2 separate regions of the Homo sapiens genome follow, and region 1 is linked to region 2. Evidence: fine-mapped expression QTL. A gene starts in region 2. The other region holds a variant in brackets. All regions are shown on one strand. Distances are between the middles of the regions. Region 1 has its middle 8.6 kb from the start of TCL1B. Region 2 holds the start of TCL6 (T cell leukemia/lymphoma 6).

The links. PIP is the estimated chance that this variant, and not a neighbour inherited with it, causes the effect.
Region 1: its variant is the best candidate, but not a certain one, in a credible set for the expression of TCL6 in whole blood (TOPMed, PIP 0.67).

What each region holds. Positions count from the first base shown.
Region 1 is chr14:95,675,133-95,680,510 of GRCh38, reverse strand. No RefSeq gene overlaps it. Among named protein-coding and RNA genes, the nearest start is that of TCL1B, 8.6 kb to the left of the region's middle. The variant C/A (reference allele first, on the strand shown) is at 2,409.
Region 2 is chr14:95,649,021-95,654,398 of GRCh38, reverse strand. TCL6 (T cell leukemia/lymphoma 6) reads right to left here and starts at 2,302. Exons shown (of 8, transcript NR_028288.2): 1 at 2,173-2,302; 2 at 1,910-2,022.

The DNA of each region.
Region 1 (5,378 bases), 26 kb before region 2:
TGTCTTCTCAGGAGACCACAGGGAGCCTGGGCAACACGGTGAGACCCCACTCTACAAAAAATACAAAAAGTACCCGGGAGTGGTGGCACGTGCCTGTGGTCCCAGCTACTCCGGGGCTGAGGTGGGAGGATCACTTGAGCCTGAGAGGTCCAGGCTGCAGTGAGCTGTGATTTTGCCACTGCATTCCTGCCTGGGTGACAGAAAGAGACACTGCCTCAAAAAAAAAAAAAAAGACCACGGGAAATTCCACTCTACTTTCCTGAGGTCTTCAGCTTAGCCTGTCAGCCTCTCACATCACACAGCTTCACAGTTCAGCACCTCTGAAGGAGGAAGCTGGCTGGATGTTTGAGGCCCCCCCAAGCCTCTAATTTGATGACTCCACAGCATCCCCCGACTGGACTCAGCACCAATTTCAGTCTTTGCCCAGGATTATCAAATGACAGGAAGGGAAAGGCATCTGCAGATGCTCACCTCTGAGCTGTCCTCCCTTCTCCAGAATTTTACTTCCTCTGGCCCTTGTTGCTTCCATAGCTCCCCGATGGTTTGGAAAATACAATCTTTATTTTTATTTAGATTTTCCATAGCGTGGCTGTAGTGTTACCAGAAAGGGGTCCCAATCCAGACCTCAAGAGAAGGTTCTTGGACCTCATGCAAGAATTTGGGGCAAGTCCATAGGCTAAAGTGAAAGCAAGTTTATTAAGAAAGTAAAGGAATATAGAATGGCTACTCCATAGGCAAAGCAGCCCTGAGGGCTGCTGGTTGGCTATTTTCATGGTTATTTCTTGATTATATGCTAAACAAGGGGTGGATTATTCATGAGTTTTCCAGGAAAGGGGTGGACAATTGGAATGGAGGGCTCCTCCCCTTTTAGACATATAGGGTAACTTCCTGATGTGTCCATGTCATTTGTAAACTGTCACGGTGCTGGTGGGAGTGTCTTTTATCATGTTAATTTTATAATTAGTGAATAATCAGCAGTGAGGACAACCAGAGATCACTTTTGTCGCCATCTTGGTTTTGGTGGGTTTTGACTGGCTTTTCTTATCACAATCTGTTTTATCAGCAAGGTCTTTGTGACGTGTATCTTGTGCTGACCTCCTGTCTCATCCTGTGACTTAGAATGCCTAAGCTCATGGGAATGCAGCCCAGTAGGTCTCAGCCTTATTTTACTCAACCCCTATTCAAAATGGAGTCACTCTGATTCAAACGCCTCTGAAAGTAGCATTGGCCTGTTGCCAACCACTTCATCTCACCCTAAGAGAGGGAGAGCTGTTTTTTTTTTTTTTTTTTTTTTAAGGTAGAAGGAATTAAATTATGTCTTTGTGCTGATGGAATTGATGCTGGAGAGACTGGACTACAGGCAAGGTATAAACTGAAGTGGTGAGAGCCCAAGGGGATGACTTGGCTTGAAGGAAGGAGGGGCTCTTCTTCCAGTGTAACTGAAAGGAACAAGGAGAATCGGCTCAGATGCAAGTAAGGGTTTTAGGTTTGGGGGCAAGAAGATGAAATTCCTTTCCTCCACCTTTCACAACATGAAATTACAAATGGTTATTTTGTAATTTTCTAAGACCTAACCTTGGAAAATAAACACGTGAAAATATTAAGAATATGTTTATGACCTTCGATAGGGATGATCTTCTTAAAGATGACAAACAAAGCAAAAGTATGACTTTTTTTTTTTTTTTTTTTTTTTTTGAGATGGAGTTTTGTTCTTGTTGCCCAGGCTGGAGTGCAATGACACCATCTCGGTTCACCATAACCTCCGCTTCCCGGGTTCAAGCAATTCTCCTGTCTCAGCCTCCTGAGTAGCTGGGAATACAGGCACGTGCCACCACACCAGCTAATTTTGTATTTTTAGTAGAGACAGGGTTTCTCCGTGTTGGTCAGGTTGGTCTCGAACTCCCGACCTCAGGTAATCTGCCTGCCTCAGCCTCCCAAAGTGCTGGGATTACAGGTATGAGCCACCGAAAAGTATGACTTCTTATGACAATACATGAAGTTTTAAAAGTGACCAGAGTAAGAGAAGATAGTAACAATATATAGCAAAGTATTAGTTTCCAGTATATGTAATGAACTCTTACAGATCAGTAAGTAAAGCGAATAACCCATTGGAAAAATAGGGAACAGCTAGAATTCACAGAAAAGGAGATGAAAACGGCCAGTTGCTGTATGAGAAGATGTTCAATCTCACAAGTAATCAAGAAAATGCAAATTTTAAAAGTGAGATACATTTTTAAAATCTATAGTAGTGCCAAACAAAAGCACTTGGCAATATCAAATGTTGGCAAGTGGTGTCGTTTGCCTTATTGACCAGGTCCCTTCTTCACAAGGAGCTGGTGAGGGAGAACCAGGCTCTTCCTCCCGTGGCCACCCTAGCCAGTCAGTTTCCACAGAACTAACACACCAGG[C/A]TGGGCAGGCCAATGCAAGTTTCTTTACTGAAAGGTGGGTCCGTTTCAAAAGGACAGTTTGGACACAGAATAGACAAACATTAGAGTTTGAGAGTTTTCCCTTGAGTTTTGCAAGACAAAACATCTAGTAACTTCAGTATTCACCAGGAAAAATTCCCCAGTGCCTCTCCCTCCAGCCCTTTCTCCTGCCTGCCTTCAGGATCACCCCTTGTCTCATAGGTTTTCATTTTTCAGTTCTCCTTCTTGGATAGAGTCTATCCTGCCCACAGGTGAGCCCTCTCTTCCCATGCCAAATTTCCATCTAACCCTTGGTCTGAAGCAGGTGCAGGCTTCAGCCAGGTGGAAGCTGCTGGGTGGGTGCTGCCTAGCCTTTGACGGTTGGGTAAGGAGAAGCGGGGTGAAGTTAGGGTGATGGGCTCCAGTCTGTTGGCCAAGGTTGAGCCTGGCTTCTCTCATTCAAGTTTCCTCATTGGCAAGAACTGTAAGCCTGCCAGTTCTTTTATTAATAGATCTATAAAGTTGGCACCTCTCCCAAGGGCAGATCTTTTCTCCCCCATAGGACAAGACAGTCTAAAACCAAATTGAGGAAACAACACTTTCTCTGTTAGCACGGGCTCGTCCTGCCCTTGCAAACTTTGGTCTCATTATTGGCAGAGGGGCTTTTGATTTCTCCCCAGCTCCACTGAGAGGGGGTGGGGAGAGCTGGATTTATCTTTCATAGCTGAGCTTTGTTGGAAGAGGACCAAGGGATAAATTCATTCAGCCCAGCCATTCTTTCTCCTTCCCCAGACACATGGAAAAAGAAGGTTCCTACAATGGAATAGTATTTTCCATTTGCAAATGAGTTAGGAAGCCAGGGGCACACAGCATCAAGCCTATGGCAGAACTCTTGCCTCCCTTTCAGTCAGAATAATTGTCTCCCACCTTGTATTCAGACTTTTGTTATCACATCAGCCTCACTCTGACTTGGCTTACAGCGTGTAGGTTTATATTGCCTGGATCCTATTTCAGGGTTTCTATCTCTGTCTCCATTAGACTCTGGCTCCCGAACAAAAAGGGGACCTGGAATATTTGAAAGTGAAATGGGAGAGTTCCCTGACCCCTGTCCCATGATGTGTGACAGGGGCATAGCTCTTATGTTCAGCCGCCACATCCTCAAACCCCTTACCGGAGGGGGAGCATGCAGACGGGCAGGTGCAGGAGCCAGGGCAAGCACTTTTTGGGCTCCGGACCCATGGCAGCACCTATGGGTGGGTGTCTGCAACTCCCAGAGTCCAAGTGGGCACATGTTACAGCGTTCTGTTAGCCTTGCTGTCCGTGGATGACTTAAGTGTTAGACAGTTCACTGGACCTAGGTCTTTGTCCAATGTCCAGGAAGAATCAGGTCACACATAAACTTGAAGGATGAATGCAGCGGTTTCACTGAGTGGTGGAGGTGGCTCTCAGCAGGATGGATGGGGAGCTGGAAGGGGGATGGAGTGGGAAGATGATCTTCCCCTGGAGTTTGGCTGTCCAGTGGCTAATCTCCTCTCCAACCGCCCCCAGCCAAATTCCTCTCAACATTCAGATGTTCCTTTTCTTCTCTCTGCTGTGCCATTCTGCCATTCTTCTGCTCTTCTGTTTGTCTCCTCATCTGCTTCTGGAGCCTGGGGTCTGGGGTTTATACAGGTATAGGATAGGGGACATGACGGGCCAAAAGGCAACTTTTGGGCATGAAAACAGGAATGCCTCTTCCCATTTAGGGCTGCAGGTTTCCAGGTTTGAGGGTAGGGCCTTTGCCAGGGAACCACCCTCTTCTACCCAGTATTTCTGGGTCTCCTGTCTGTATCAAAAGCATATAGGATTTGATGGTGAACAGTCCCAAATCCAAAGGTTAGTTCTACATCTGACTAGTTGTGTGACTTTGACCTTATAAACTTTTTGAACTTCCTACTCCTCACCAGTAACACAAAAATGCTATCTACCTTACTATGTTGTAAGAAATGGTAATCACATTTGTAAAGTCCCTGGCACACGGTAGATCATCAATGATAATTTATCAGCTGGGGGACAGAGACCATTTCTTATTCATCTCTATGTCCTCAGCATCAAACCAGTGCCAGAAACATTGGAAGGGCCCAGAGAGTATTTGTTGGATTGAAATATCCTTTAGTCAAATTGTTTCCTGGGTCAAAACAGTTCTAGCCGAGTTCAACATGAACCCAGAGGTGTGCTGAAAATATAATTCATTCTGACTCTCTTCCGCCAACTCCTCATAGAAAATGTACTCAGGAATGAAAGTGTTCACAGCAAAACAAAGGCCCTGGGTATTGAGAGTTTGCAGTGAAATAGAGAGGTCTGAGGGGTCAGGAGAAACAAAGCATCAGTCCGCACAGACGGTCCCCTGGGGTCTCTGTAATTATCATGTCTTCTTTTGCAGCTCTGCTGTGTGACTGGTCTATTTAGGTTAGCAGAGTTGCCGAGGTGAGAGGTGCACTCTGATTGGCCATGGAGGCTGCCCTTGTGTGCCTGGAGCTTTTCCTGACCATGGTACAAAGCTTCCTCATGCAGTGCATGAAGATCCACCTGCATCTTCCCTCTGCTGCCTCTCCCTCTGGCCCTTTGGGCTGTGGTTTTAAATGGTTCTTCATTTAATCCATCAGAATGACCCAGAAGGAAGCAATTGTTTGTAAATGGGTCACTCCCTCAAGTGTGGTGGCAGCCTTCTTATGATGAAGAAATTGGGTCTTTGCAAATAGTAAGTGTCTAACCAAAGACTGGGGTGAGGGGAGAGAGGCCCGCATGTGTTACAAGCTCCTCATGGAAACTAGGCAGTATTCCTATCTTTGTTTTAGAGATGAAGAATCAAGGCTCTGAAAGCAACCATCAGGATGGGCACGGTGGCTCACACCTGTAATCCCAGCACTTTGGGAGGCTGAGGTGGGTGGATCGCTTGAGCCCAGGAGTTTGAGATTGGCCTAGGCAACTTGG
Region 2 (5,378 bases):
ATATAAGCATTTGCATATCCATAGACAAGAATTATTTTTCATTTCTATCGGTTATCTGTAGCTTTCAGAATGGTAAAATAGGTCCCATAGAATTGGAATCAGATAACATGGAAGAGTATGCCCTAGACAGAGAAATATTCTGTTCCTTGCCTCCCACTGAAGCAGAGTGTTTTCTACAAATGCAATCCAGGTAAAGGAGAATACCTGTTAGGAAGCCTGGGAAGAGCATTCCGGGGTGGGGTTGGGATGGGCTGAGAGATGCCAATCAACTTGTGAATACACAGCTAAACAAACTCAACAAAACATGATTTGCTTTTGTTTTTTTGAGACAGAGTCTCACTCTGTCACCCAGGCTGAAGTGCAGTGGCATGATCTTGACTCACTGCAACCTCCACCTCCTGGGTTCAAGCAATTCTCCTTCCTCATCCTCCCAAGTAGCTGGGACTACAGGTACCTGCCACCACGCCTGGCTAAGTTTTTTATATTTTTTAGTAGAGACACAGTTTCGCCATGTTGGCCAGCCTGGTCTTGAACTCCTGACCTCAACACCATGACTGGCCTAAACAAAATATGTTTTAAAAGTCTTCTCCCAGGCTGGGCATGGTGGCTCCCACCTGTAATCCCAGAACTTTGAGAGGCTAAGGCAGGGGTATTGCTTGAACACAGGAGTTCAATACCAGCCAGGGCATCATACTGTGACCCCCATCTCTATAAAAATAAAATAAAAATCGTATCCCTGTAATCCCACCAATTTGGGAGGCTGTGGTGGTAGGATCACTTGAGGCCAGAAGTTTGAGACCAGCCTGGGCAACACAGTAAGACCTCCATCTATACAAAAAGTTTTAAAATTAACCAGGCATGGTGGCGCATGTGTGTAGTCTCAGCTACTTGGGAGGCTGAGAAGGGAGGATCATGTGAGCCCAGGGAGGTAGAGGCTGCAGTAATCCATGATTGCACCACTGCACTCCAGCCTGGACGATAGAGTGAGATCATTAACAAATAAAAACAGTCAAGCTCTGTAAAATATTTGAAGAGATTTATTCTGAGCCAAATATGAGTGACCATGGCCTGTAACACAGCCCTCAGGAGATCCTGAGAACTATGCCCAAGGTGGTCGGGGTGCAGCTTGGTTTTATACATTTTAGGGAGACATGAGATGTCAATCAAATACATTTAAGAAATACATTGGTTCTGTCCAGAAAGGTGGGACAACTTGAATTGTTGGGTGGAGGTTGGGGGCTCCCAGGTTACAGGTAGATTTAAAATTGACTGGTTGACAATTGGTTAAGTTTATCTAAAGATCTGGGCTCAATAGAAAGAAAATGTCTGTGCTGTGATAGGAGGTTGTGGAGACCAAAGTTTTACCATGCAGATGAAGCCTCCGGGTAGCAGGCTTCAGAGAAAATAGATTGTAAATGCTTCTCATCAGAGAGGTATAATGAGTCCTGTCTGACCTCTACTTTCCATCATGGCCTGAACCAGTCTTTCAGGTTAAAAGTACCCTGGCCCAGGAGGAAGTCCATTCAGATGGTTGCAGGGAGGGCGGGGCTTAGAATTTTATTTTTGGTTTACATCCTGTCTCAAAAGAAAAAAAAAAAGAATAAAAGAGTTTTTGGTTTACACCCTGTCTCAAAAAAAAAAAAATGAAAGAAAAGAAAAATCTCAAGGACATCTAAAAGCTGATAAGACAGAAATTACCAGGCCAAAAATAAAAGGGAAGTAGAATGCAGAAAGGGAAAAAAAACAGAATGGAAGCTGCTTTTTCCCTGAGAGCTTTTTCAGAACCTGAAAATCAGAACTTGTTTGAGCCTCCCGGAGACTGGTGGAGAAAGAAGTCCAGCCAGGCCCTGCCCAACTCTAAAGGAAAACCCAAACTTGTCGATATTTGATGAGACTATAAATCGCTTGCCTCTTTTCACTCTCTGGTGCTCCAGCAGCACAGCCCCACACCAACCTTCATCTGGAGTGTCTCAAGACCTTCTGGAATCTTCTCCCACACATACCTCCTTACACAGGTCCATTCTGTGAAAATAAGCAATTCAAAATCTAAGCTGTTGGAACTTTAAAATATTTCGAGCCTTAAGGGAATTTGATCATGGGACCTGAGTCATGTAAACAGGCAGCTGCAACCTTTGTTTCTCTGATTATAGATTAGCCTTTTTCCTTACTTACATTGTTGTGTAAAATGTCGTATATGACTGAAGCGTTCCAGGGAAGACCCCTTTCCTCTTCACTGTTGATCTTCATTATAGATTAACTCCCTCTTTCCTCTCTGACAGAGACTTCATGACCATCACATTGTCTGGGATAGAATGTTAAACACATTCTTAAATTGGAAAGGAAATGAAAACAAGCTGTAGAGAAAAGAAAACAAGGTGGAGGCAGGGGAACAACCTATAATTAATTATAGGTTGTAACTCATAAACCAGCCTTGCATAGAAAATGTTAAACAAGAAAGTTAAAACAAGAAAAGTTATACAAGAAAATGTTCTACAAGGTTACTAAATGTCTTTGCTTTCTGCCTATGTAAGCAAGACTTTAACTTTTAACTTCAGGGCCCTGGCCCCATTTTCCTAGAGTCTGTGTTTCTCAGATGGCCATTCCCAGCTTTTGGCTTGAATAAACTCTTTAAAACTGGATTCTGGGCTGGGTGCAGCGGCTCACGCCTGTAATCCCAGCACTTTGAGAAGCTGAGACAGGAGAAATCACTTAAGCCCAGGAGTTCGAAACCAGCCTGGTCAATAAAGTGAGACCGATTAAAGAGAAGTAAACTTAAAAACGAACAAAAACAACTTTGTTTTTAAAACTTAAAAACTTAAAAACAACGAAAACCCTGGATTCTGATCCTTTCAATTACTTTATATTGACAATTCTACTATGGGTGCTGCCCAATCAGCCTTGTAAAGCACAGGGCTGACCACTTCAACTCCCTGCTGAGGGTTGAATCTGGAATAAAATCCAGATTCCAGAGCTACGGTGCCCTTAGATCTGGGGCTGTTGCTTTTGTACTTCTGTTTTTCCACTTTACTTAGCTGAAGCACAATCCCTACAGCAAGCTAAGAAAGGAAAAGGTCCATTCCAAAACCCTTCGCTCCCTAGACCACTGCTCTGTGTGCAGACAACGAAAACAGCCGAGAGTTCACACAAAAGGGAAGGACTAACTGCCCGGGGCAGGCTTCAAGGAATGCCTGTTAAGCCCCAGGGAGGAAGTGGCTGTTGACTTGGGAAGAGTCCGTTGGGTAGTCAAGGGCTAAGGTGGTGGTTGACATGAAGGCAAATTTTCCATGCCCTGGTGAGAAGTTGGAATCCTTGCTGTGAACGTTGGGTAGTACAGTTTGCAGGACCATTTGCTTGGCTATTGGGTCCCACCTGTTGACAGGTGCCAAGCCTGATTTTCCTTGGCCTTCCCTCCTGATTTAGCTGAACACCAACCTTCTCAACACAACCCCGAAGTACACCTTGCTCAGTTTTTAACAGAGCTGCTAGATTTCAAGGCATGATTCTCAGCACTGTGTCCGGAATTGGTGGGTTCTTGGTCTCACTGACTTCAAGAATGAAGCCGTGGACCCTCGCGGTGAGTGTTACAGCTCTTAAGGTGGCGTGTCTGGAGTCTGTCCCTTCTGATGTTCAGATGTGTTCGGAGTTTCTTCCTTCTGGTGGGTTCGTGGTCTCGCTGGCTCAGGAGTGAAGCTGCAGACCTTCGCGGTGAGTGGTACAGCTCTTAAGGTAGCGTGTCTGGAGTTGTTCATTCCTCCCGGTGGGCTCGTGGTCTTGCTGGGCTCAGGAGTGAAGCTGCAGATCTTCGCGGTGAGTGTTACAGCTCATAAAAGCAGCGTGGACCCAAAGAGTGAGCAGTAGCAAGATTTATTGCAAAGAGCAAAAGAACAAAGCTTCCACAGTGTGGAAGGGGACCCGAGCGGGTTGCCAATGCTGGCTCGGGCAGCCTGCTTTTATTCTCTTATCTGGCCCCACCCACATCCTGCTGATTGGTATAGGGATAAGCAAGTACCTAGCCACCACCATCTTTGCTCCCAGCGTGGCTCACCTGCCTAGCTCAAACCTTCATGGAGCTGTGATCTGTACCCCAGGATACAAACAAAAGTGGGCACCATCCCATGGTCCATATCAAATTCATGACCAGCTCCCAGAGGACCCTCCTGCTGCCATGCTGATCCTCAGGCTGCAGACCTGCTTGACTCTTCACACCTGGCTACTACTGCACTCCAGGATTCTCAATATGACCCCTCCATCCACCCAGCTGCCAGGACCAGAAACCCTGGCCATGCAGTAAGAATTCACTCAACAAACACTGAGCCCCAACTCTGGTCAGGCACTGGGGACAAATCAGATGTGGCTCTACCCTGCTGCAGCTTGCAGTGTGACTGGGAGTGATGACGGTCCCTAGCCTCAGCCTGTCACCTTGCATCCGTCAGTCCCACATCAGCCCGTTTACCTCAGGCTCAGATTGTCCATCGCAGGGACCATGCAGCTCAGTGTTGGCCCTGCCTCTGGGCTTGCCCCTCCAGCTCCCCCTTCACTCTGCTTCCAGAGATACATTGCCCATTCTAATTTAATTTTACCTCTTCCCAAATAAAACTCCTCAGTAGATGCCAATTGTTTTTAGGATAAAATTAACCACCTTGTTTTGGCACCCACAGGACTGCATGACCCTCATGCCAGGCCCCCAGCTCAGACATGTTGGTTCAGATGGAGCACCTGGCAGTTCCTTGAATGGGTCACACCCATCACACCTCACACTGCTGCCATGCTGGCCTTGTGCCATGAATGTCCCGCCTCCTCCTGCATGGTGCCTTGGTCAGATAGGCTTCGACTTGTCTCCCATATTTCAGAAAGTCTTCCCTGCCCCTCCAAACCAGGCTCCATGCCCTCTGGTTCCCCATAGCGCCCAAGCCACGCTCTGCAACAGCACACATCGTACTGAATGGTAAATATTTACAGTCTGTCTTCTACACTAGACCATGAGGGCCTTGAGGACGAAGACAATAAAGCCATTCATTTCTGCATCATCAGAAACTAGCCCAGCACTCAGTATATATGTACCTGGTGAATATTTACTATATGAATGAATGTAATGATTAAGTAATGTGTCTAGACTTCATGTTTGGCCCACCGGCACTAATAATACCTCCTTAATCTTTCTCTTCTGACACTCAACTTATGACCCCCTGACTTGGATTCCCATTAAGGACTGAAAGTTTGTGTTTCCCCCCAATTCCTAGGTTGACACCCTGACTTCCAATGTGACTGTGTTTGGAGGTAGCACCCTCAAAGGTAGACAGCAGCAGTTTATTGATCCTGGGCCACTTTCCAGAGACCACTCTCCTAGGACAGACCATTGAACTCTTATGGGTCCTCCT